Linked DNA regions of Homo sapiens. The protein of the gene in region 4 purifies or fractionates together with the protein of the main gene of each other region. This does not show direct contact. Each region holds a gene or a part of one and is shown on either strand. Other genes may lie near its edges. The genes, in order: STK33, SUMF2, POTEE, EFNA3, UGGT1, PKLR and KRT6A.

What was found.
Region 1: the proteins of EFNA3 (region 4) and STK33 purify together in Homo sapiens (affinity purification with mass spectrometry, with the first as the bait; one study listed by BioGRID). This does not show direct contact.
Region 2: the proteins of EFNA3 (region 4) and SUMF2 purify together in Homo sapiens (affinity purification with mass spectrometry, with the first as the bait; one study listed by BioGRID). This does not show direct contact.
Region 3: the proteins of EFNA3 (region 4) and POTEE purify together in Homo sapiens (affinity purification with mass spectrometry, with the first as the bait; one study listed by BioGRID). This does not show direct contact.
Region 5: the proteins of EFNA3 (region 4) and UGGT1 purify together in Homo sapiens (affinity purification with mass spectrometry, with the first as the bait; one study listed by BioGRID). This does not show direct contact.
Region 6: the proteins of EFNA3 (region 4) and PKLR purify together in Homo sapiens (affinity purification with mass spectrometry, with the first as the bait; one study listed by BioGRID). This does not show direct contact.
Region 7: the proteins of EFNA3 (region 4) and KRT6A purify together in Homo sapiens (affinity purification with mass spectrometry, with the first as the bait; one study listed by BioGRID). This does not show direct contact.

What each region holds. Positions count from the first base shown.
Region 1 is NC_000011.10:8,584,229-8,587,728, forward strand, and holds part of STK33 (serine/threonine-protein kinase 33), read right to left. Parts: intron 1-3,500. UniProt on the Homo sapiens protein: Serine/threonine protein kinase required for spermatid differentiation and male fertility. Promotes sperm flagella assembly during spermatogenesis by mediating phosphorylation of fibrous sheath proteins AKAP3 and AKAP4.
Region 2 is NC_000007.14:56,074,286-56,077,727, reverse strand, and holds part of SUMF2 (inactive C-alpha-formylglycine-generating enzyme 2 isoform b precursor), read right to left. Parts: intron 3,143-3,442; coding exon 2,992-3,142; intron 895-2,991; coding exon 839-894; intron 1-838. UniProt on the Homo sapiens protein: Lacks formylglycine generating activity and is unable to convert newly synthesized inactive sulfatases to their active form. Inhibits the activation of sulfatases by SUMF1.
Region 3 is NC_000002.12:131,251,036-131,254,535, reverse strand, and holds part of POTEE (POTE ankyrin domain family member E), read right to left. Parts: intron 2,011-3,500; coding exon 1,966-2,010; intron 1,619-1,965; coding exon 1,437-1,618; intron 1-1,436.
Region 4 is NC_000001.11:155,084,938-155,088,038, reverse strand, and holds the end of EFNA3 (ephrin-A3 precursor), read right to left. Parts: intron 2,949-3,101; coding exon 2,635-2,948; intron 2,163-2,634; coding exon 2,097-2,162; intron 1,912-2,096; coding exon 1,834-1,911; intron 1,627-1,833; coding exon 1,496-1,626; 3' UTR 501-1,495; downstream 1-500. Other genes in the region: EFNA4-EFNA3 protein precursor, read right to left, coding at 1,496-1,626, 1,834-1,911, 2,097-2,162, 2,635-2,948. UniProt on the Homo sapiens protein: Cell surface GPI-bound ligand for Eph receptors, a family of receptor tyrosine kinases which are crucial for migration, repulsion and adhesion during neuronal, vascular and epithelial development.
Region 5 is NC_000002.12:128,094,200-128,097,699, reverse strand, and holds part of UGGT1 (UDP-glucose:glycoprotein glucosyltransferase 1 precursor), read right to left. Parts: intron 272-3,500; coding exon 136-271; intron 1-135. UniProt on the Homo sapiens protein: Recognizes glycoproteins with minor folding defects. Reglucosylates single N-glycans near the misfolded part of the protein, thus providing quality control for protein folding in the endoplasmic reticulum.
Region 6 is NC_000001.11:155,298,639-155,302,697, reverse strand, and holds the start of PKLR (pyruvate kinase PKLR), read left to right. Parts: upstream 1-1,259; 5' UTR 1,260-1,302; coding exon 1,303-1,402; intron 1,403-1,745; exon of another isoform or gene 1,746-1,810; coding exon of another isoform or gene 1,811-1,817; intron 1,818-2,417; coding exon 2,418-2,600; intron 2,601-4,059. UniProt on the Homo sapiens protein: Pyruvate kinase that catalyzes the conversion of phosphoenolpyruvate to pyruvate with the synthesis of ATP, and which plays a key role in glycolysis.
Region 7 is NC_000012.12:52,486,676-52,490,257, forward strand, and holds the end of KRT6A (keratin, type II cytoskeletal 6A), read right to left. Parts: intron 3,394-3,582; coding exon 3,268-3,393; intron 1,874-3,267; coding exon 1,653-1,873; intron 1,429-1,652; coding exon 1,394-1,428; intron 1,281-1,393; coding exon 1,045-1,280; 3' UTR 501-1,044; downstream 1-500. UniProt on the Homo sapiens protein: Epidermis-specific type I keratin involved in wound healing. Involved in the activation of follicular keratinocytes after wounding, while it does not play a major role in keratinocyte proliferation or migration.

The DNA.
Region 1 (3,500 bases), on a different chromosome or scaffold from region 4:
TCATACCCTCCCTTCCCACCTCTAACCAATCTTCTTTCAAGGCCGGGTCCTTCAATGATTCATAATGTAGGGAGGATTCCAGAACAAAGTCCTACATAAGTGACCTCTGGAACTTCATACATATTCCTTCATGTCTGAAGTGCCAGCCTGGACTGTGTCTTGAGAGAATGAATACTGTTAACTGGATACATTAAGGATGGCTGCTCAACAAGACTAGAACTCCTGAGCTGCTGGGCCACTCCTCAACTTTCAGTTATTAATAACACAAATAAGGCAGGGCAAGAGAGGCCTGAGAGACACAGCCTTGGAGCAAGCCAATCAGTGAGAGACTATGGGCAATGATCAGAGCAAGACTATGATAATGCCAACGTCAGCAACACCAGAGGATAAACCTCTGGTTTAGGCGCCTTCCTCCTTATGCCTGGCCCTTCTCCAACAGCTCTCTCTCTACTAGGTCTCAGCCATCCAATAGGAAAGGTCTTTTCTGTTACCAAGTGCCAGGGCAAACAGGAGATAGACCCTTTCAGACAAAGCATACAGCCACAGAGGGAGCTCTCCATGAAGTGAAAGGTCATAACCCTAAGGTAAACAGGCAGTTAATCTAGACAGGATGCTATATGAAGACAATGAGGAAGGCAAAATCCCAAAATAGCAGATTCTTAGAGAAAATGCTACAGACAAAAGACAAAGAAAATGATTTTTTTTTTTTTTTTTGAGATGGAGTATCACTGTCCCCCAGGCTGGAGTGCAGTGGTGCGATCTCAGCTGACTGCAACCCCCGCCTCCTGGGTTCAAGTAATTCTCCTGCCTCAGCCTCCCAAAGAGCTGGGATTACACGCATGCACCACCAAGCTCTGCCAATTTTTGTATTTTTATTAGGGACGAGGTTTCACCATGTTGGCCAGGCTGGTCTCAAACTCCTGACTTCAGGTGATCCACCTGCCGTGGCCTTCCAAAATGCTGGGATTACAGGTGTGAGCCACTGCACCCAGCATTTTTTTTTTTTTTTTTTTTGAGACGGAGTCTCACTCTGTCACCCAGGCTGGAGTGCAGTGGCGCAATCTCGGCTCACTACAACCTCTGCCTCCCAGGTTCAAGCAATTCTCCTGCCTCAACCTCCTGAGTAGCTGGGACTACAGGCGCCCACTACTACACCCGGCTAATTTTTGTATTTTTAGTAGAGATGCAGTTTCCCCATGTTGGCCAGGCTGGTCTCGAACTCCTGACTTCAGGTGATCCACCCGCCTCAGCCTCCCAAAGTGCTGGGATTACAGGCATGAGCCACCGCGCCCAGCCAAAAATGATTTTTTTAAGCTAGCGTTAGAAGAAGAGCAAGTCCAAGACAGATGTTAATTAACTACAAATTGTGTTTCTGTCTTATCCAACAAAATGGACCTCAGGCAGGGCTTGGTGGCTCACGCCTGTATTCCAAGCACTTTGGGAGGCTGAGGCAGGCAGATTGCTTGAGCCCAGGAGTTCAAGACCAGCCTCAGCAACATGGCAAAAACCCTGTCTCTACAAAAAATACAAAAATTAAAAATTAGCACCAGGTGCAGTGGCTCACACCTGTAATCCCAGCACTTTGGGAGGCCAAGGCGGGCAGATCACTTGAGGTCAGGAGTTCGAGACCAGCCTGACCAACATGGTAAAACCTCGTCCTACTAAAAATACAAAATTAGCCAGGTGTGGTGGCACACACCTATCATCCCAGCTACTTGGGAGGCTGAGACAGGAGAATCGCTTGAACCTGGGAGGTGGAGTTTGCAGTGAACCAAGATTGCGCCACTGTACTCCAGCCTGGGCAACAAGAGCAAAACTCCATCTCAAAAAACAAAAAATTTAGCCAGGTGTGGCAGTGCATGCTTGTGCTCCCAGCTACTCAGGAGGCTGAGATGGGAGGATGGCTTGAGCCCAGGTGGCAAAGGCTACAGTGAGCCAAGATCGTGCCACTCCACTCTAGCCTGGTCAAGAGAGCCAGATCCTATCTCGGAAAAAAAAAAAAAAAAAAACACCTGACTTCAAATCCCAACCCAACCTGGCATAACAGGGTCTCTGTAAAATGGCATGCTAGCCTGTCCAGTCATTGTCTGCCATTATTCTTCTAGATCTCAACTTCCTCTAAGACTTACATGCTTTTCCACCTCTAGGCCTTTGAGTCTGCTGCTCCTTCTGCCTCAGCTTCCTCTTCCCTTTTGCTCATCCCTCCCTGACTTCCCCCAAGCAGACACAGAAGTGCTCTCCTCCATCTCCCTTCACACCAACCAATGTGTCTGTTATAGCACCTGCCTCAGGGGATTATAATTTATTGGCTTGGGCTGGACACAGTGGCTCACACCTGTAATCCCAGCACTTTGGGAGGCCAAGATGGGTGGATCACTTGAGGTCAGGAGTTTCAGACCAGCCTGGCCAACATGGTGAAACCCCGTCTGTACTAAAACTACAAAAATTAGCTGGGCATGTTGGCAGGCACTTGTAATCCCAGTAACTCGGGAGGCTGAGGCAGCAGAATCACTTGAATCCGGGAGGTGGAGGTTGCAGTGAGCCAAGATCACACCACTGCACTCCAGCCTGGGTGACAGAGCAAGACTCTGTCTAAAAAAAAAAAAAAAAAAAAAAAAAAAATTATTAGCTTGTTTCCCTCCACAACAGATTATGAGCTCGACATGGAGTGTATCTTTTTATCTTTGTATCCCAAAAACCTAGCATAGTATCTGGCTCATAATTTAGTAAGTGAATGACTCAAATTAGGGAAGTGAGGATGAGTGCAGTGGCAACTGCATGCCAGGCTGTGTGTCATGTGTATCTGGCATCTCTCCCTCAGTGATTTGTGACAGACAGAATGGTGTCTGATGCACAGTAGGTGATCAACAAAAACAATAAATTAAGCGAACAAACATGAAAAGAGCTATAACAGATTCAGCAAAGTATTATTTATGACATCAAGTATGAAGCTCCCTTCAAACTCTAAGACTCTATGGAGTTTTTTTAATTGCATTTATACAAATTTATTAGAAAATTTGAAAACATTTTTCAATGGGATGGGAAACTAGTATTTATTGAAGGGCTACATATTTGTTAGGCACTTTACCTATGATATTTGCTTTTCAGAATTCTGGGAAATTGTAATTATAAGCCCCATTTTATAGAAAAAGGAACCAAAGCTAGAAATGCAGGACCAAAATTTGAACCCAGGTGAGCCTGAGCTCACCAATCCTAAGCTTTTCCACACTGCACGCTTGAACCTCTGGAAAGAACACGAGGCACACCTCCCTATCATTCCACTCCAAGAAAAGGAGTTCTGAACAAGCCACGGCTCAACTGGATCACAATTCCAGAGGGAGGAGTTTTCAATGGAAGGTAAAAAAAAAAAAAAAAAAAGATGAAAAGTTCTTTCTTCCCTTGAAGATCATCATCTTTTCTTTGTGGAAAGGTTCACATGGCCCTTCCTGTTTCTCCCATGAGGCTGTAGGGAAAATCTTAAGGCCTCTTCTTGGGAAAGG
Region 2 (3,442 bases), on a different chromosome or scaffold from region 4:
TTCCTGCTGGCCTTCTCAGGACAGTGCTTTTTTATTTGCTTATTTTAGTTTTATTTTTTATTCACTTTTTTTTTTTTGAGGCAGGGTCTCGTTCTGTCGCCAAGGCTAGAGTACAGTGGTAGCTCACTGCAACCTCCGCCTCCTGGGTTCAAGTGATTCTCCTGCCCAAGCCCCAAGCAGCTGGGATTACAGGTGCATGCCACCATGCCCAGCTCATCTTTTATTTTTTGTAGAAGCAGGGTTTCACCATATTGGCCAGGCTGGTCTTGAACTCCTGACCTCAGGTGATCCACCCGCCTCGGCCTCCCAAAGTGCTGGGATTACAGGCGTGAGCCACTGCACCCAGCCCTACAACTCTTTAATAGAAAGTACTTACGCTGGCTGGGCACGGTGGCTCATGCCTGTAATCCCAGCACTTTAGGAGGCCAAGGCGGGTGGATCACCTGAGGTCAGGAGTTTGAGACCAGCCTGGCCAACATGGCAAAACCCCATCTCTACTAAAAATACAAAAAAATTAGCTGGGCATGGTGGCAGGCACCTGTAATCCCAACTACTTGGGAGACTGGGGCAGGAGAATCGCTTGAACCTGGGAGGCGGAGGTTGCAGTGAGCCAAGATCGCACCACTGCACTCCAGCGTGGGCAACAGAGAGAGACTCTGTCTCAAAAAAAAAAAAAAAAAGAAAGCACTTATGACCCATTGTCTTTTGCTTTACCAGCTTATGAGTCATCAGTTGCATTAGAACCCAAGCCTTCTGGATGCCGCGGCCTAACAACACAGTGCCCAGCCTCCAGCAGGTCTCTGTCAATGCTTGGTGAAAGGAGGAACGTAGGTCTTACCTGCCACAGGTTGGTGCGGTTTGGCTGGAACCAGTTCCCCCATGGGTAAACTTGACCTGCGAGGAGAGCAAGGAGGCAGCAGAGGAGGGGGAGGTGAAGAATTAGGGAAGGAAAAAAGAACACAGAAAGAGTGAGGGAATCAAAAGGAAGTTAGAGGGTGATGAGAAAAAAGAGTGAATGACCTGCTTTTATTTGCCATGCCCATCCTCTCCACTCGCTGAACTGCATTAGAGGGCCCTGGCCTCCTCATGTGCTCCAGGGCAATGTAATCCTAAGCATGGTTCTGGGACCTGAGCCAGTTTATAAAGCATCTGTTATCAGTTCATGTTGAGAAAAGTACAGAAATCGAGAAACTTGAAATTGGACTTAGATTGCATAAATGAATGAGCCAGAGGCAACCTCACAGGTCATATTAAAAACTTCGATCACTGGCTGGTCGCGGTGGCTCACACTTGTAATCCCAGCACTTTGGGAGACCGAGGCAGATGGATCACGAGGTCAGGAGTTCGAGACCAGCCTGGCCAACACAGTGAAATCCTGTCTCTACTAAAAATACAAAAATTATGCAGGGCATGGTGGCTCACGCCTGTAATCCCAGCACTTTGGGAGGCCAAGGCAGACGGATCAGGAGGTCAGGAGATCGAGATCATCCTGGCTAACACGGTGAAACCCCGTCTCTACTAAAAATACAAAAAATTAGCCGGGCGAGGTGGCGGGCGCCTGTAGTCCCAGCTACTTGGGAGGCTGAGGCAGGAGAATGGCGTGAACCCGGGAGGCGGAGCTTGCAGTGAGCCGCGATCGCGCCACCATACTCCAGCCTGGGCGACACAGCGACACTCTGTCTCAAAAAAAAAAAAAAAATAGCCGGGCATGGTGGCAGGTGCCTGTAATCCCAGGTACTAGGGAGGCTGAGGCAGGAGAATCCCTTGAACCCGGGAGGCGGAGGTTGCAGGGAGCTGAGATCGTGCCACTGTACTCCAGCCTTGGGCGACAGAGCTAGACTGTCTCAAAACAAAAAACAAAAAACAAAAAACTTTGATCACTGATGTACCTGGTGTTCACTGAAAGATTGTGTAGAGGGGTTTAATGTGCGGAGTTGCTTTTTGCTGTCCTAACTTTTTGTGTAATTAGGATTGCAGAATGACAAATGACCGAGTTAGGAGCAAACAGTGATTCTTTTTTTTTTTTTTTGAGACGGAGTCTTACTCTGTCGCCCAGGCTGGAGTGCAGTGGCGTGATCTCGGCTCACTGCAACCTCCACCTGCCAGGTTCACGCCATTCCCCTGCCTCAGCCTCCCAAGTAGCTGGGACTACAGGCGCCCGCCACCAAGCCCAGCTAATTTTTTTTTGTATTTTTAGTAGAGACGGGGTTTCACTGTGTTAGCCAGGATGGTCTCAACCTCCTGACCTCGTGATCCACCCACCTCGGCCTCCCAAAGTGCTTTGATTACAGGCGTGAGCCACTGCGCCCGGCCGCAAACAGTGACTCTTAACATTAATCTCTGTACCCCAGAGGCAGAAGTGTGTAGTCTTGGTAATTCTTTTTCCTTATGCTATGTTGCTCTAGTTATATTTATTGAAATGTAACATGTCTGTGGAATTTCCAATAAAATATTTTATGTCTGTTCTTTCAATTTTCCAGTTATTAATTTTTATGGTATTTTATATCAGTCTGAGATGGACTAGAAATTAAAAAAAAAAAAAAACACTGGTCCTCCACCACAGATAGCTTAAGAAGCACTGCTCTAGGGAACACAGACCCTTCCTGCCCCATCCCCCCGCTTTTTCTTTTGAGACAGGGTCTTGTTCTGTCACTCAGGCCAGACAGCAGTGGTGCGATCATAGCTCGCCGCAGCTTTGAACTCCTAGGCTCAAAGGATCTTCCCACCTCAGCCTCCTGAGTAGCTGGGACTACAGGCACATGCCACCAGGCCCAGCTCATTTTTGTATTTTTCGGAGAGACAGGGTCTCCCTATATTGCCCAGGCTAGTCTTTTACTCCTGGCCTCAAGCGATCCTCCTGCCCCAGCCTCCCAAAGTGTTGGGATTACAGGCATAAGCCACTGCGCCCAGCCCCTTTCCACCCTTTAAAGCCCCTCATGCTGGGCAGGATGGGGAGAAGAATAAAGGAAAATCGCCTTATCATCTGGATACCCTTCAAGCCCCCTCGGGCGGCAAACTCCCACTCTTCCTCCGTGGGCAGTCGTTTTCCCCGCCAAGCACAGTAGGCACGGGCGTCATTCCAGCTCACGTGTAACACTGGGTGCTCCAGTCTCTCTCGGATGCCAGAGCCAGGACCTGCAGGCTGACAGCCAGGATTAAGTGAGACAGGCTTCCGGGAGCGCATTAAGTCGGAGGCAGGCTAGGTTTAGGGCGCCCGCGTTCAGCTTTTACCACTAGATGGAGCAAGAGAGCTGGAAGAGAGCCGGGTGAGTGACCAGTGGTCGGAGTCAGAAAAAAGAGACTACAGGAGGCTGAAGGGAGAAATGGATGGGTAACAGGAAACAGGATTCGGGCAGGTGAAACAGGCCTGCTGAGCGCTTTCCCTGATATTCCCCTATCCTTCTTTGAAACTCAGTGTTCCTGGATGTACGAGGGGTAGAGA
Region 3 (3,500 bases), on a different chromosome or scaffold from region 4:
ACACAGCCATGCTTATTCACTTTACAGTCCATAGTGTCAGTTAGCTGGGTGTGATGTTGCACACCCGTGGTCTCAGCTAGTAGAGACTGAGGTCAGAGGATCACTAGAGCCCAGAAAGTCGAGGCTGCAGTCAGCCATGATCACACAACTGCACTCCAGCCTGGGAAACAGAGTGAGACCCTGTCTCAAGAAAATCAATATATGTAGTCCACAAAGCCTAAAATATTTACTAACTAGCTCTTTGCAGAAAAAGCTGGCCAACTCCTGGTTTAGTAGATCAAAGATTCTTTGATGTATTTTAATAAAAGTTTTACCAAATATACTGAAATGTTTATATTAAATATAGATCCCCATGTACAATCGCTTGGCAATATTCAGATTGAGGGTCCAATATTTCAGCACTCAGGCACTGACAACAAAAATTTAGTAACTAGCAATCTTGTTGCTAACAAGGTACAGTGTCAATGTAGCATGTAGCTTCCATTTGCAACACAGCAGATATTACAAGAATTTTAACAAGAACTCTTAAGATGTGTCATCAAACTAAACGCTTTAAATACATTTTAATTGTGAAATAATCAGTATACCCTACATCTAACCTCATTTTTTAAAAATGGTTGCATAATACATTATTTTGGGGATATGGAAATTGAGCTATTTCCTATTGATAAGGAATTAGACTAGCTCCAAATTTTTTACATAATACTATAATAAATGTCCTTATACATAAGTATACATATAACATATCTATACAAATATCCTTTACATGTATTATATATGCTTACTGTTATATATGTGTGTGTGAATATGCTACTCAATTAATGTTCAAAATGTATTTACCAACAGTATATGAAATGTCTTTTTCAATGAAACCATTTCCCCTGCAGCAACACGGATGGAGCTGGAGGCCATTATCCTAAGAAAACTCATGCAGGAACAGAAAATCAAATGCCACATATTCTTACTCATTAGCGGGAACTAAACATGAGAACTCATGGACACAAAGAGGAGAATAACATACACTGGGGCCTACTTGAGGGAGGAGCATGGCAGGAGGGAGACGACCAAAAAACTACCTTTCGAGTATTTTGTTTACTATGTGGCTGGTGAAATAATCTGTACCCCAAGCCTCCATGATACAGTTTACCTATATAATAAACCTGCACACGTACCCCGAAGCTAAAATAAAAGTTCACTGAAAAGAGAAGAAAATGCCTTTTCCCTCACATTTGCCAATACTGGTTATTTTTCAAATAAATTAATGACTGGAAAAAAAACGGTAACTGATTGTTTGCTGATTTTCATTTTTCTGATTAACAGGCAAGGCTCAATATCCTAATAAAAGTATAAAATTTGTTCATCATGAATATTAGCTCAAATTAGGATTAGTTTGGCAGCACAAAGTTACCTCCTGTTCAATGTTGCCATAGGCTTACCTGTGATACTCTTCATTCTCAGTGTCAGGAAATTGCTGGCTTTCAGGTGTTCTGCTCTTCCTTGGAGGAATTAATCCATCATCACCATTGCCAGCAGTGGCACCATTAGTCAGGTTTTCTGGGAATCCGACATGAGTACTTCCGTGCTTCTTCATTTCTTCGATAGCCATAAAATTTTCTAGCTGGAAAATACAGAGAATAAGAAATTATCTACTTTAGGCACATTATCTATTGATAATCAGACTAAAACCAAGAAAGATAAAATAATTGGTCTAAAGCTCCTAAAGTGGCATTACCTAGCATTTTATGGCACCATTCGGGATTATTCCATAATAATGAAAGAATAGCTCTAGGGTTTGCACCTCTTCAAAATTCAATGTACAGAATTCTGAGTTAACTATTTAATTTTTCACTGATGATTTATGCTACTTACATGATAGGATCATGTATGCCTACATTTACTACACTTTGTTAAACAACATAATGTAAAAATCTAATTCAACACAAACGTTTGAATATAAAGGTATACCTCTCTATCACCATCCTTATTTATTTCTGGTTCTTGAGATCTTTTCTGCAGATGTAAAAACAGAAGGTTAATTTGCTTGCTGTATTTCTGTGACATTTCCTCTTTTGGAGTGCATGTTTTTAAAATAATTTTATTCTGAAGTAATCAAGTATGGACAATAAAAATTAGAAAGTAATTAAAATTAAACTGTTAAAATAAATAATAATTAAAATTAAGAATTAACTTTTTAATCTATGTTTAGCTACTGCCACATCACTGGCTTCTAACATGTGAAAAATAATTCACCTTAGACAAAGGGAGAAGAAAAACATGAACCAGCAAACTTAACTTTCTCACTATTTGTTTGGACTAAATTTAATTTGTTATGTGTTAAATCTACCAAAAATGAATCAGCAGATGATTTGTAGTGTTCCAAAATCTTCCTCACTTGAAAAGAGTTTACCTCATGAAACCCTAACTAGTGAGCACCTACAGTGCACTGAAGTGCTTTTTTAAAAGATTCCTAACTGGATTGTAGGCACCCTTTAAACTATTAGGAGCCGAAATCAACACCAAACAGAAAGAAATGCAAATTCTCACATTTTAATTGAAATTATATACTGTCATATGATAGTGTTATGTATCCAGATTATCTGCGTAAGTCCAGTTCTAATATATTCTAATGTGTACTAATGACAGCAGATAAAATTTTTTAATCTCTACTGATTTTCTGCAACTGAAATAAATTAGAATGTTATTGTGTTTGTGCACTAACACCAAAGGTCCCATTCTGCAAGATATGGTTCTTGTAATAGGCAGTTGGGTTGCTTTTATGACCTGGTTCCCTCCCTGAACAGAAACACTGAGGTCAACGAGAGACCACAAGGCAGGATATGTCCTTAACCTTGGTATCAGTGACTGACAATATAAAACTGTGGATTTTCAATCACAGGCCATGATTACTCTTTAACCATGAATCCAGCTCAGGGAATCAGTGTTACATTGTTCATAATTCCTATTGCTTAATAATATGATTCAATCATTGATGTTACTTTCTTTATCATGTTAGGGTGTTGTAAAAATAAAAGAACAAACAAAGTTCTGAAATTTGTTTTTGCCTCTATTCCAAAAGGAGAGATTAGCTATAAGCTAATCAAGAAGGCAGATAAGAATATTTTAAAATAAGAGTATTTTAAATTTTATAGTGGGTTATGTTGAAGTTAAATATCAAATATTAAATTAGAATCTATTGATTCTTCTGTTAATAAGGTTGCTGATTTTATTACAATAAATTTTAAGAATCTATTAAAATTTTTTTTTTTTTTTTTCACATGGAGTCTCGCTCTGTCACCCAGGCTGGAGTGTAGTGGTGGATGTCGGCTCACTGCAAGCTCCCTCTCCTGGGTTCATGCCATTCTCCTGCCTCAGCCTCCCGAGTAGCTGGGACTACAGGCACCCACCACCACGCCCAGCTAAGTTTTTGTATTTTTACTAGAGACGGGGTTTCACCATGTTAGCCAGGATGGTCTCGATCTCCAGACCTCGTGATCCACCTG
Region 4 (3,101 bases):
CTATTATGGCTTGCTGCCCAAGCACACAAGAGAATGTTAAATTTTAGTTATAGGCAAGTGAAAATAAAGATAGTTTTTTTTCTGTCTAGGTTCTCAAATCCCCTGAAATCCATAGACTCCAGTCAAGAACCTCAATTACAGCATGGAAGGGGAAGAAAAGGTGGAAACCATAATTGATGGAGCCTTTAACTCCCTGCGTCATTTAATCCCTACACCAACCCTAAGAGAGAGATACCACAACCAGTTTTTCTGGTGGGATACCTGAGAATCAGAGAGGTTGAGTGATTTGCCCAAAGTCAACCAGGCCCTGCCTGGAGGCCCCTCTTGCTCTTTCCAAGCAGCGCTGCCTTTGTAATGAAGATGAGCCCCAGAACAAGATTTGAACACCTCGTTGTGACTCTTTGGCCCCAGAATTCCCTCTCCTACTCAGGCCCTGTGCCCTGTGAGGTTTAACCAGTGTAACAGAAGGGTGATGGCCCCTTGAAATCACACACACTCAGTTATTTTTATCTCCAGTTTATTTTTTTTAGACTAAGAGCAGAGTATGAAAGTCACAGCCAAAGCACTTGAAAAAGGCCCAGGAGGATAGGTGGGACCACATAGGGTGAGCAGGGCAAGGTCCTGGGAGATGGTTCCCGGCTCAGGGCTGGAAGGGAGGGGGCGTTGTTGTTTTACGGTCTCCAAAAGTGTCTGTGCGTTGCATAGGTCCTGTCTTCACAGAAGACAAAAGAGGGGCCAGGGGGTCCCCCAGGTGTGGGGGGCCTAGCCTGGTGGGGAAGGGGTCTGAAGCTGAAGGGGAAGTCAAGAAAGGTCAGGGGGTTAAAGAGGGAAGGGACTCTGTCTGTCTGTACATTATATATAGAGATATAGAGTCTGTACATGCCTGCCTGGCACCCCAATGCCCACCCCTTGCCATCCTTGTCCACTGCCCGCCCCCCCAGGGGTGTCTACTTGTAAACTTGGTTTCAATCCAAACCACAATCCTGGAAGTGGGAGTGGGGGAGGAGGACGTGCTTATTGCTGTAAACAGGGGAAGGAAGCAGCAGGCAGTGCTGCCCCTTGCCCATCTAGTCCCCTCCCCATGTTCTGCCCCTGGAGGAGAGCAATGGGGGTGCCTCCCACGCTTCGATTTGCTCTCTCTGGGGGCATATGTCTCTCTGGGGGGACAAAGGGAGAGGGCACCAGGAGTCAGGGAAAGGTACCAGGGGCCAGGGAGTCCTGAGCACTGCCCTTTTTGGCCCCCAAGTTTGGTACCAAACATTACCAGAGCCACAAGGCCGCCCGGGACCCATGGCTGTCCCCGTGCTTGGTCCACTACAGTGCCCTACGTGGGGGGAAGGGGTAGAGGGGGCGGACACAGATGTATGGTGCAGGCCCCACTTCTAGCCATGGGAGGAGGGGTCTAGGCCCACTAGGCTTCCCTTGGAGAGGCCAAAGGCTCCCTGCTCCTTCCAAGCCCCGCCCCATCTCTCCCCCCCCAGGGGAGGGGGCAGAGCTAGGAGGCCAAGAACGTCATGAGGAAGAAGGCGATGCCCACGGCCAGGGGCAGGTGTTCCCGTTTGGGGCTGGTCCCGCTGATGCTCTTCTCAAGCTTGGGCACCTGAGGGTTCTCTCCCTCAAAGTCTTCTGTGGACAGAGGAACAGACAGACTGGTGAGGGCTGGGTTGCGCGCCAGGGCAGGGGCACGCGGCAGCAGCAATGGAGCCAGGGACGTGACCACCCACAGGGTAGGAAGTATCAGTGCCCCCAGGGAAGGCATGCGAGGTGAGCAGGCACCGGGGCGGGGGGCTGCGGTTCCAGCAGTGGCCACCAGAGGGCGCTGCGCAGACTCACCCAGCACGTTGATCTTCACATTGGGGCCCATGGTGAACTGGGGGAGAGTGGGGACCGGCTTCTCCCCGGAGTGCGATGCTGCGGGGTGGGGTGCGGGTGGGGAGAGAGGAGGGGAGAGTCAGGGCCAGGATTCCCTCCCCTTGCTACGGCTGGGGAGCAAGCCCCCCTCACCTGTGCCCTCCGCCCCCACCCCCAGGAAGCCAGGGGAGCCCCAAAGCAGGGAGCTGAGGATGGGGGCGCGGCTCGGAGCCTATTCTACTCACTGGAGGCGCAGCAGACGAACACCTTCATCCTCAGACACTTCCAGTGCAGGTTGTGAGTGGGCGTGGCTGGGGAGGAGACCGGGCCTGAGTCACTTTCGCCCAATGTGTGCCTGTGCCCTCCCTCGACGGCTCTATTTCTCACCCCCTCCAAACTGTCCCCGTCGGGCGGTCTCCTTCAGGAGCTCCCCTACCCTTTGGACACGGGTCACTTTAGCTCTGCCGTCGGCCCTAGACGCCCCTTTGGTCCCACCCCTCAAGAAACTGGGATCCCTGATGTTCCAACCCCGGAATGTCCCTCACAGAAACAGCGATTCTCCGCAGCCCAAACTTGGGACTGTCACCAAACTCCTCTCTTGGCCCCACGACCTCGTCTGAGCTGAACCCCTCAGGCGTCCCGTGCCCACGCCTCCTCCCTGGTCTCAGCCGCGAGACCTGGCGCCCGCCGCGCCGGCCCCGCCCCGGAGCCTAGGGGCTCCACCCCCCGGCTGTCACTCAGACTCTCGCGTTCAGACCCGCCCGCCCGGCCGCCGTCACTCACAGATGTAGTAGTACTCGTGGCCGGCGTGGAACTCGTAGCCCAGAGAGAAGGCGCTGTAGCGCTGGAACTTCTCCGAGAACTTGATGGGGCTGTGCGGGGCGTGCGGCCGGTTGCACTCCCAGCGCTTGAAGCCCTGGCTGGCGTTGCAGGTGCGGTAGCCGTTGCGGCTCACCATGTACAGCACGTACTGCTCTGCCCCGCCTCCGGGCCCCGGTCCCGCCCCGGGGCCCACCCCCGAGCTGTTGTAGTGCGGGCAGTAAATATCCAGATAGTCGTTCACGTTCACCTGCACGGTGTAGCCCTCTCGCCGCAGGCTGTGGGGAAGAGGAAGCGGCTCAGAGAGAAGAAACCCCAGAGCAAAGCCGCTTTCCATCTGACCGCTCCGCAGCCCCTCCCCAGGGTCCGCGTAGCCTTCCGACTTTTCCTCCGAGCTTCCTCGCGGCTCAGCCCTGTCTCTGCCCCCGGGG
Region 5 (3,500 bases), on a different chromosome or scaffold from region 4:
TACAGTATACACTGAAAGAGGCTCTTCATAAATGCATTTGATGATAATCTCACTCCTTAAAAAGCTCCTGAATGTTCACTGTCAGAGCCTATATTTATACTCAAATACACGAAGGGAAAAAAAATGTTCTCTTACCTGGCTTCTAACAACAATGGAGTGGAAAACCATTTTGTTGTAAGAGAGGTTGTAATGGCTTTTGAGTCGGCCTTTACTGAGGAGAACAGCCACAGAACAGTGAGTACAACCAGAACTCCCATTTTATAGCAAACTCCTAAAAGGAAAAAAAGAAAAGAAGTTTTGCTACAAGGAAATTTTTTTTTTTTTTGAGACGCAGTCTCGCCCTGTCGCCCAGGCTGGAGTGCAGTGGTGCAATCTCGGCTCATGCAACCTCTGCCTCCCAGGTTCAAGCGATTCTCCTGCCTCAGCCTCCCCAGTAGCTGGGATTACAGGCACGCACCACCACACCCTGCTAATTTTGTGTATCTTTAGTAGAGACAGGGTTTCACAATGTTGGCCAGGCTGGTCTCAAACTCCTGACCTCGTGATCTGCCCGCCTCAGCCTCCCAAAGTGTTGGGATTACAGGCATGAGCCACCATGCCTGGCCTGCTACAAGGTAATTTTAACCTCATACTTGGAGACACAAAATAACAATCCTAATAATACTTGGAGACACAAAATAACATAAGTTAGCGAAACAGAAATGCTTCTGACATATAATAGCACTTAATATCTAGCTAGTCCAACAGATATTTGCTGAGTGACTGATATGTAACTGAAGGCACTTAGGTTATTACATTCTTTCCTACAAAGGCTCTGCTTCATTTCCCAAGCAATCTACACCATACAGGGGTATAAAAATCAGTTGGTGGCACACCAGGTTGCACACAACCATATTTTATAAAGGATGAAAGCAAATAAAGCTGAGATAGATGAAAATATAAATGATAGGTATTAAGGGTTGAACTGTGTCCCCCAAAAAAGATATGGAAATCCTATCCCCCGGTACCTCGTAATGTCAACTTATTTGTAAATACAGTCTTTACAGAGGTCATCAGTTAAAACAAGGTTATTAGGTGGGCACTAACCCAATGACTGATGTTATAAAGAGGAGAAATCTGGACAGAGAAAGACAGCACAGAGGGAAAACTATGTAGAGACACAGGAGACCACCAGGTGAAGACAGAGGCACACACTAAAATTATACTGTAAGCTAAGGAATGCCTGAAACTACCAGAAGCTGAAGAGTCAAAGAAAGATTCTTCCTCCAAAGATTTCAGCGGGAACGTGGTCCTGTGAAACCCTGAGTAAGGATTTCTAGCACTGTGAGACAGTAAATATCTATTGTTCTAAGCCACCCAGTTTGTGATACTTTGTTGTGGTAGCCCTAGGAAACTAACATAATGGGTCCCAAATGTAAACTCAGACAGGTTCTGAAATAAAGAAATGTAAAATTTTAGTGGCTTCCCAAGCCAACTGTCCCATCTACAAAATGAGGGATCTAGGGTCACTGGCAAAGTGGATGGCCACAGAATGCAGGCCTCTTGACACCCTCCGCAGCCGCTCCAAGCCTGTCAAGATCCTCTCAGACAGCATCCAGACAGTTTCAGAAAAAGGTCTCCAGCTGCAGATTTCTCTGATTTTCATCTCCAAAGTCCACCTAACAGAACCCTAATCGGACCTCCCCTGAGCTCTACCCATTTGAATGAGAACTAAAAGGGGGTGTGAATATGTGGGAAGCACTAAGCTATCCTTGGGCTTCAGAATGTTAGCTCTGGTAAGGCTCACTTCGGTCTCATCCCAGTTCTTTAATATTGGTTACAAAATCTATCACTGAGGGAGGCTGTCCACATTGGGGACTAGTCAATAGCTGCTTTTTATAAAAAGCATCATTTGTGTTAACATCCTGCTTCATAGAACATACAGTATCTCTGAAGAACGATGGTCAAAAGCAAAATAAATTATAACAAATAGAAAAGTGGCTTTCAGAAGCATTTTAAGTTCAGGCACTGCCAGCTTCTTTGGAAACCAAAAAAAATTAATAAATCAGCCAGGCATGGTGGCATGCACCTATGGTCCCAGCTACTTGGGAGGCTAAGGTGGGAAGATAGCTTGGGCCTAGGAGGTCCATGCTGCATCTGGGCAACAGAGCGGGACAGGAGGAGTTACGGGACAGGAGGAGAGCAGGACAGGAGGAGAGTGGGGGAGGAGGAGGAGGAAGAGGAGGAGGAGGAAGAGGAAAGAAAGAAGAAAGAAGGAGGAAGAGAAGGAGGAGGGGAAGGGGAAGGTAAAGGGGAAGGGGAAGGAGAAGGGGAAGGGGAAGGGGAAGAGGAAGAAGAAGAGGAAGGAGAAGAAGAAGAACATCCCACTTATAAATAAAAACACTCAGAAGTGTTTTTCAAAATCAACGTTTGTAAAAACTGCTATAGAGGCTGCAGAAATGAAAGAATACACACACAAAAATGAAACCTACTGAAATTAGAGATAACCAAACTAGATTTTACACAATGAAACCTGATAGCAGTGATTCCTGGCTGGTTGAGTGAAGAGGATATAGGCCTTTTCTGGAATCTAGTAAAGTTACTGACATTTCCCACAGAGGAGCAAACAAGGACCCAAATTTTATGTACAACTTAAGAATTCTCTTGGGACTGGCCCAGCGCAGTGGCTCACGCCTGTAATCCCAGCACTTTAGGAGGCTGAGGTGGGTGGATCACCTGAGGTCAGGAGTTCAAGACCAGTCTGTCCAATGTGGTGAAACCCCGTCTCTACTAAAAATACAAAAATTAGCCAGGCATAGTGGCAGGTGCCTGTAATCCCAGCTACTCAGGAGGCTGAGGCAGGAGAATCGCTTGAACCCGGGAGGTGGAGGTTTCAGTAAGTCGAGATCGCACCACTGCACTCCAGCCTGGGCGACAGAGAGAGACTCCGTCTCAAAAAAAAAAAAAAAAAAAAAAAAAAAAAAGCATTCTCTTAGGACTAACCATAGACACCCTTTCCCACAGGCCCACAGACTGCAGCCTCAGAAACCTGCTCTACAGGACACAATAGACACGGTTTGTAAAAAAAGGGAACCTTTTAGCATCAGGGCAGCTGTGATCAATTCCTGAGTTTGCTACGTACTAGCAGTTTAACCACATATATGTTACCTAACTTCCCAGGCCCTTAGTCTCGAAGACTATCAAAGTAGGAATAATAGTATCTGCCTCACAGGGTCAATGTGAAAATGAAGAGGCAATAAAAAAATCACTTTGTAAAGTGCCAAGTACTATACCAGAATTGATTGTTGTAGTAAAACATTTTATCGTAAGAAAAAACTATCTTCTAAATTACAGAATAGTACATCATCGTTATTAAATAGCCTCAAAAATACACATTGGAAATATATCCTCTGTGGCTGAGAGAAAAAATTCTCCCCAAAAGTTACAGAGTTTTTCTTTTTTTTTTAATCTGGCCTGAGTCAATGAGTTTATAAACTGGAGACAGCGCATCATATGAACTG
Region 6 (4,059 bases), 210 kb from region 4:
CTTTAAAAAAAAAAGAAAGAAAACAAGGCTGGGCATGATGGCTCACACCTGTAATCCCACCAGTTTGAGAGGCCGAGGCTGGTGGATACTTGAGGCCAGGAGTTGGAGACCAGCCTGGACAACATGGTGAAACCCCATCTTTACTAAAAATACAAAAATTAGGCCAGGCACAGTGGCTCACACCTGTAATCCCAGCACTTTGGGAAGCTGTGGCGGGCAGATCACCTGAGGTCAGGAGTTCGAGACCAGCCTGACCAACATGGTGAAACCCCGTCTCTACTAAAAATACAAAAATTAGCCAGGCGTGGTGGTGCATGCCTGTAATCCCAGCTACTCAGGAGGCTGAGACAGGATAATCGCTTGAACCCAGGAGGCAGAAGTTGCAGTGAGCCAAGATCACGCCACTGCACTCCAACCTGGGCAACAGAGTCAGACTCAGTCTCAAAAAAAAAAAAAAAAAGAAAAGAAAAGAAAAAAGAAAAACAAAATTAGCTGGGTGTGGTGGTGCACGTCTGTAATCCCAGCTACTCGGTAGGCTGAGGCAGGAGGATCGCAGAGGTTGCAATGAACTGAGATTGCGCCACTGCACTCCAGCCTGGGCGACAGAGTGAGACTCTGTGAAAAAAAAAAGAAAAAAAAGAAAAAAGAAAAAGAAAAAAGGAAGGAAGGGAGGGAGGAAAGAAAATTTCCCTGGGGGTAGGAGTCTATAAGTTTAGCAAAATAGTCGATCTTTCAGTGTTTCCAGCAACAACCTAATCAAGTTTATCAGTGTCTGAGAATGTTCAAGGTACCATCTTGGGTTCAAACATGTAGGCGAAAACATGCAGCTGGCCAGGTTACAGAGTGGTGAAGGCACTCTGCATTTCTTGGTTGAGACAGAGAAAAAAAGTGGTCAGAACTGGGTAACCCTCCCCCCACCATATTATCACAGTGATCCCTTTTGTCTTTCTTCAGGCTCCAGCCCCACCCTACAGCCCCTGCTCCCTGGATTCACTAGAGCTAACTTCAGTAAAGTACAAAGAAAATGGGGCCATATGACTGGCCAAAAAAAAAATATCTATTCACGTGGATGACCAGATAGTATGAATGGATTGAAAATTTATCAGGAAAAAAGGATGAGAGGAAATGCCAGGAGATGAGGGCAGAGAGCAGGCCGTTCTGGGGGAGGGATTCTGTGGGGACAGGGTGGCCTACTGGGTGTGCCCCTTTTCTCTTCTCTGTCTCCCTTAGATAAGACCAGCAGTTTTGTCATCCTCTCCCTCTCATTCCATGGTCCCGCAGCCCCAGGCCCACACTGAAAGCATGTCGATCCAGGAGAACATATCATCCCTGCAGCTTCGGTCATGGGTCTCTAAGTCCCAAAGAGACTTAGCAAAGTCCATCCTGATTGGGGCTCCAGGAGGTAAGAAGGGGAGACAGAAGCCATGGAACATAGGAGGAAAATGAGGGTGAAAACTAGGAGCCAGGGTGGAGGGCATAAATGATCCACATCAGCCACTGGCTAGGTGGGTTTTGGAGAGGAACGTACGTTCTTCAGAGCCTCCCGTGTGTTAAATTATGGACCCTGGCCTGGGTCTTTTCCAGGCCCTATAGGCAGGCCAGAGCCACAGCATGTAAGCCACGGGGCACTCCCGTGGTTCCTGGACTCTGGCCCCTGGCATACAGGGCTTCCAATGGAACAGGAGACAGTGGTGACACTTTAACCAGTCTGCAGAACTGATCCCCAGCCCAGCTGGGCCTCATGCCTCTGACAACCCAACAGTGTGGAGCAGACCCACAGAGAGGGAGACCCAGAGAGGTGTGCAGTGGCATGGAAGGTGCGGCTGGAATCGGGGGCTCCTCTGAACTGGGATGGGTCAAGCTACAGGGACCTCTGTGTCTGTAGCAGCTTTGAGAAGCCTGGGGAGACTCAGAGGATGGGGTGGGGAAGCCAGCCAGTAGCCAGGGGTTGGAAGGGAGAAAACAGAGACCTTTGGAGCAGGAACTGGGTGATTCTGGGTCTGCATAGGGTGAGGCTGCTGGGGACTAGACATCAAGGGGTGGTGGGGTTGAGGGTCATCAGTAGCTGCAGGTCGGGGGGTCCTGGGTTGTGCGGGGTCAGTATAACTGAGTGGTCAAGAACTTGGGCTAGAGTTAGTCAGACCTAGATTTGAATCCTAGCTGATCCATACTTAGAAGCTGTATAATATTGGACCATTTATTTCCTGTTTCTCAGCCTCTGTTTCTTTATCCATAAAATTGGATAATTATAGAACATTTAACAGTACCTGCTTTATAGGATCCTTGTGACATAATAAAATAATATATGCATGATGCCCAGCTCATAAGAAGGGAAGGAACAGAGGGTATGCTGAGAGACGAAGGCATGGGGAGGAAGGGCAGGTGACATGCAGTCCCTGAGCCCCCTTCTACCACAGGGCCAGCGGGGTATCTGCGGCGGGCCAGTGTGGCCCAACTGACCCAGGAGCTGGGCACTGCCTTCTTCCAGCAGCAGCAGCTGCCAGCTGCTATGGCAGACACCTTCCTGGAACACCTCTGCCTACTGGACATTGACTCCGAGCCCGTGGCTGCTCGCAGTACCAGCATCATTGCCACCATCGGTAAGCACTCCCATCCCCCTGCAGCCACACAGGGCCTATTGGTATTTCTTGAGGTGCTTCTTCATCTTTTGTCTCCTTTGAGACTTCTCCATGTTTGACACAGTCATTCATTTAACAAAAATTTGTTGAGCATATAGTAGACAAGATTTTGGGCCCTGGGAGTAGATCAGTGAAAAAAACAGACAAAAATCCCTACCCTTGGGGAGCTGACAGTCTAGCTGAGTATGACAATAAATAGTAAGCACAATAAATTATTTAAAATAAGTAAATTATTTATTCCGTTAGAAAGTGAGGCCGGGCATGGTGGCTCATGCCTGTAATCGCAGCATGTTGGGAGGCCCAGGTGGGCAGATCACTTGAGGTCAGGAGTTCGAGACTAGCCTGACCAACATGGAGAAACCCCGTCTCTACTAAAAATACAAAATTAGCCGGGCATGGTGGTGCGTGCCTGCAATCCCAGCTACTCAGGAGGCTGAGGCAGGAGAATCGCTTGAACCCAGGAGGCGGAGACTGTGGTGAGCCGAGATCACACCATTGCATTCCAGCCTGGGCAACAGGAGAAAAACTCCATCTCACAAAAAAAAAAAAAAAAAAAAAAAAAAAAAAGTGGGCTGGGCTCAGTGGCTCATGCCTGTAATCCCAGCACTTTAGGAGGCCAAGGTTGGCAGATCGCTTGAGCCCAGGAGTTTGAGACCAGTCTGGGTAAATGGCAAAACCCATCTCTACAAAAAATACAAAACTTAGTTGAGTGTGGTGGTGCATGCCTGTAGTCCCAGCTACTCAGGAGGCTGAGGTGGGAGGATCACTTAAGCCCAGGAGGTCACGGCTGCAGTGAGTCATGATCGAGCCACTGTACTCCAGCCTAGGTGACAGACGAGACCCTAGAGAGAAAGAGAGAAAGAAAGAAAGAAGGAAAGAAAGAAAGAAAGAGAGAGAGAAAGAAGGAAGGAAGGAAGGAGGGAGGGAGGGAGGGAAGGAAGGAAGGAAAGAAAGCAAGCAGGCAAGAAAGAAAGAAAGAAAAGAAAGAAGGAAGGAAGGAAGGAAGGAAAGAAAGAAAGAAAGAGAAAGAAAGAAAGAAAGAAAGAAAGAAAGAAAGAAAGAAAGAAAGAAAGAAAGAAAGAAAGAAAGAAAGAAAGAAAGAAAGGAGTGAAAGTTGGCCGGGCATGGTGGCTCTTGCCTATAATCCCAGCACTTTGGGAGGCTGAGGCAGGTGGATCACCTGAGGTCAGGGGTCCGAGACCAGCCTGGCTAATGTGGTGAAACTCTGTTTCTACTAAAAATACAAAAAATTAGCCAGGCATGGTGGCATGTGCCTATAATCCCAGCTACTCGGGAGGCTGAGGCAGGGGAATCGCTTGAACCCGGGAGACAGAGATTGCAGTGAGCCAAGATCACGCCATTGCACTCCAGTTTGGGCAACAAGAGCGAAACTCTGTTTGTTTGTTTGTTTGTTTTTAAA
Region 7 (3,582 bases), on a different chromosome or scaffold from region 4:
AGTATAATTACGGTTCAGTGTATGCACATTTTAATTGTGCTTGATACATGTTGTCAGGCAAGTTTCTTGCTTATGAGGGCAATTATAATGATTAATCACATATCTGATTCTTTTGTCAAATAACTTGCTCTAGTTGGCCGAGAATATGTTTCTTAACTGGACAATTAGGCTGAGCCCTGGCGTAAGGGGAAAAGTGGTCCTGGAAACCAAGGCAGAGGGAATGGGATGCTAGTTCCTGGTATGGTCAGTTAAAACGGAGTGGACAATGCTGGTGGACCAGATGCCTCCCACTCCATTTGCCAAAAGTTCATATGGAATTTGATCTAGAAATACACTCTGAATGTCATGATACCAAGCTGAAGTTTGATGAACCTCTCTAAAGGAGGGGAGTTATGTGTATAAAGAATAGATTATCTTTTAAAAACAACTATTCACTTATCAGATAAAAAAGTTTAAGCCCAAAACTTTGGCCCCAAAGCAAGGCAAAGTAAAAGAATATATTGTATTATAAATCTGCTTTATTTAGCAATTGCAAACAGCGAAGAGCACAGAAATCATCACAGAGATACAGGCTTTGTACATCATAGGACTAGTCACTTGTGCTTTCATGGATACTGCCTGGGTGGGGGTTCACAACACTTATAAGTTAGAGAGTTTGAGAGCCAGTGGAAAGTAAGTGGAAGTTGTTCTGAAATAAGCCCCTGGCAATTTTCTGCAATGAAAAGGAGCAGAGGTCATTTTCTTATAATGCTCAGCCTCAGAGATAGAACACTGGAGGCAAGAAATTAATAATTTAGTAACAGTGAAGCTCCAGTGGTGATTACATCATGATGTAAAATCAGAGGTTGATCTGATGGTGAGCAATGGGTGCTCAGATGGTATAGAGAGAGAGAGAAGAAGTGAGGGCACTAAGCATCCATACCCAGCTCTACCTGGGACAGCAGGGGAGACTGGAGGCCAGGAGAGGAAAGGCAACCTGAGGAGAGGGCTCTGCAGCCAGAGAGGGGCCTGAGGACTGTGGGACCGAGAGCTAGCAGACGCACTTTAGTGCTTATAGCTCTTCCTGCTGGAGGAGGAGGTGGTGGTGTACTTGATGGTGGAACTGCCGCCTCCAACAGAGCTGAGGCCACCCCCAATGGCTCTGCCACTGCTGGAACTGAAGCCACCTCCAACGCCAAGACCACTGCCATAGGAGTAGCTGCTTCCTCCACCCAGGCCTAAGCCACTGCCGACACCACTGGCACCGCCATAGCCACTGGAGACGGTGGACTGCACCACAGCTGTGATGGGGAGGGGACAAGGACACAAGAAGCCATGGTGAGCTCATCCTGTCAGCCTGAGCCCAGTCAGAAGAGTGCGAGGGCAGGGGAGGAAGGCAAGCAAAGGTACTTACAGATGTTGACTTGTCCAACGCCTTCGCCATTCAGCCTGTGGAGAGGAACACAGGGAGGGTGAGACCTCAGAGAGCTCTTCCTTCCCTGGACCAGCGTGGGCAGCCTCGGTGGGTGGAAGAGTCCATGGGAAACTGCTCTTTTAGTTTTCTCTCAGGAAGAGCAATTATGGCCATGGGCAGTGCACCTTAAAGTTGTGCTCAGTGCCAGGAACCTTGAAGATGGACTCAGCTGTTGAAGGAGTTCGTGTCAGTTACCCACCTGCACTCCTCACCCTCCAGCAGCTTGCGGTAGGTGGCGATCTCCACGTCCAGGGCCAGCTTGACATTCATCAGCTCCTGGTACTCCTTCAGCAGCCGGGCCAGGTCCTGCTTGGCCTTCTGCAGGGCATCCTCCAGCCCTTCCAGCTTGTTCTTGGCATCCTTGAGGGCCATCTCCCCACGCTGCTCAGCATCAGCAATGGCGGCCTGCAGGTTGGCGCACTGGAAGAGGAAAGGAATAGAAGAAACTTGTCATCCGGTCTTCCAGAGGAGACTAAACCTGGCTGGTTATTTCCTAGTGAAGGGGCCAGGAGCCCAGAATTGATGGTGAATGAGCTCTGACTCTTCCTATCTATTGTTTTTTTTTTTATTTTGCAGTTTTTGTCCAGTCTGGTTCATTTGACAAAAACTCATAACCCTTTTTGTGAACCACTCTGTGGGAGAATGTGGATATTTACTAATGGGAGACACTGCAGTGGACACATACACTGGAAGAAATGTACCTGCTGGTTTGTTTGGAGTGTTGTCTCCACAGTCAAATCAAGACCACTTATGATTACCTCATATAGATGCCACACTAACATACACAAAATTAAGACCATCCTGAAGTGAGGTGATGAGTCTTCACATGAGACTGCTGAGACCTTGCCTTCCTCCCCCTCAGAATCTCTCATCTACTGTTCTTTGTCCTTTGCCCTTCCTCTACTCTCTCTTTCACCTTGAGTCTTGAGCAGATTTGAAACAATGTTCCTTGTGCTTTCTTATCTGCCCTTTTCTTTTTCAATTTGTTCCTTTGCAGTTTCCAAGTCAGTCTTCCTATGGAAATAAATCCAATTCCTCTAGACCAAGCTTGTCCAACCTACAGCCCACAGGCCACATGCAGCCCAGGATGGCTTTAAATGCAGCCCAACACAAATTCTTAAACTTTCTGAATACATTATGAGGGTTTTTTCTTTTTCTTTTTCTTTTTGAGACAGAGTTTTGCTCTGTCACCCAGGCTGGAGTGCAGTGGCGCGGTATCGACTCACTGCAACCTCCACCTCCCAGGCTCAAGCGATTCTCCTGCTTCAGTCTCCTGAGTAGCTGGGACTACAGGCACGCTCCACCATGCCCGGCTAATTTTTATGTATTTTTAATAGAGGCGGCGTTTCACCATGTTGGTCAGGCTTGTCTCTCACTCCTGACCTCATGATCCACTAGCCTCAGCCTCCCAAAGTGCTGGGATTACAGGCATGAGCCACTGGACAAGGCTGTATGTTTTGTTTTGTTTTGTTTTAGCTTATCAGCTATTGTTTGTATTAGTGTATTTTATGTGTGGCCCAAGATAGTTCTTCTTGTTCCACTGTGGTCCAGGGAAGCCAAAATACTGGACACTCCTGCTCTAAACCATGTTTTTGCAGCTCTGAGCATCGTGACTGGTTCTCTCATGTGTTTGTGTCATGCCATAGGTAGGATCTATGTCTCCTAAGCAGCAGGTACCCACTAAGGGTAGGAAATGATAGCCTCCTCTCCCTGGTTTTGATAAGTTCCAGGGGATTTTCCCTAATATAATGGTTGATGGCTGCCTGACGACCTGACAAGGAAATGCTTCTCTCCTCCATTGTCCCTCACCATACCTGCTTCTTGACGTGGTCGATCTCAGATCTCAGCCTCTGGATCATGCGGTTGATCTCAGCAATCTCCTGCTTGGTGTTGCGCAGGTCGTCCCCATGTCTGCCTGCTGTGACCTGCAGCTCCTCGTACTGCAGCCCAGAGGTGGAGAGAGAGACAGTGTCTACGGGTTCTTACCTGGGAGCGATGACTTTCACTTGTGTATCATGCATGTCATGAAGTGGACCTAAAGGCTTCTCCTCAAGAAACTTGAGGAAAAGTTGATATTATGTGGTTGGTGGATACTAAACACTGGAGTCACAGACCATCCTCATTATGGC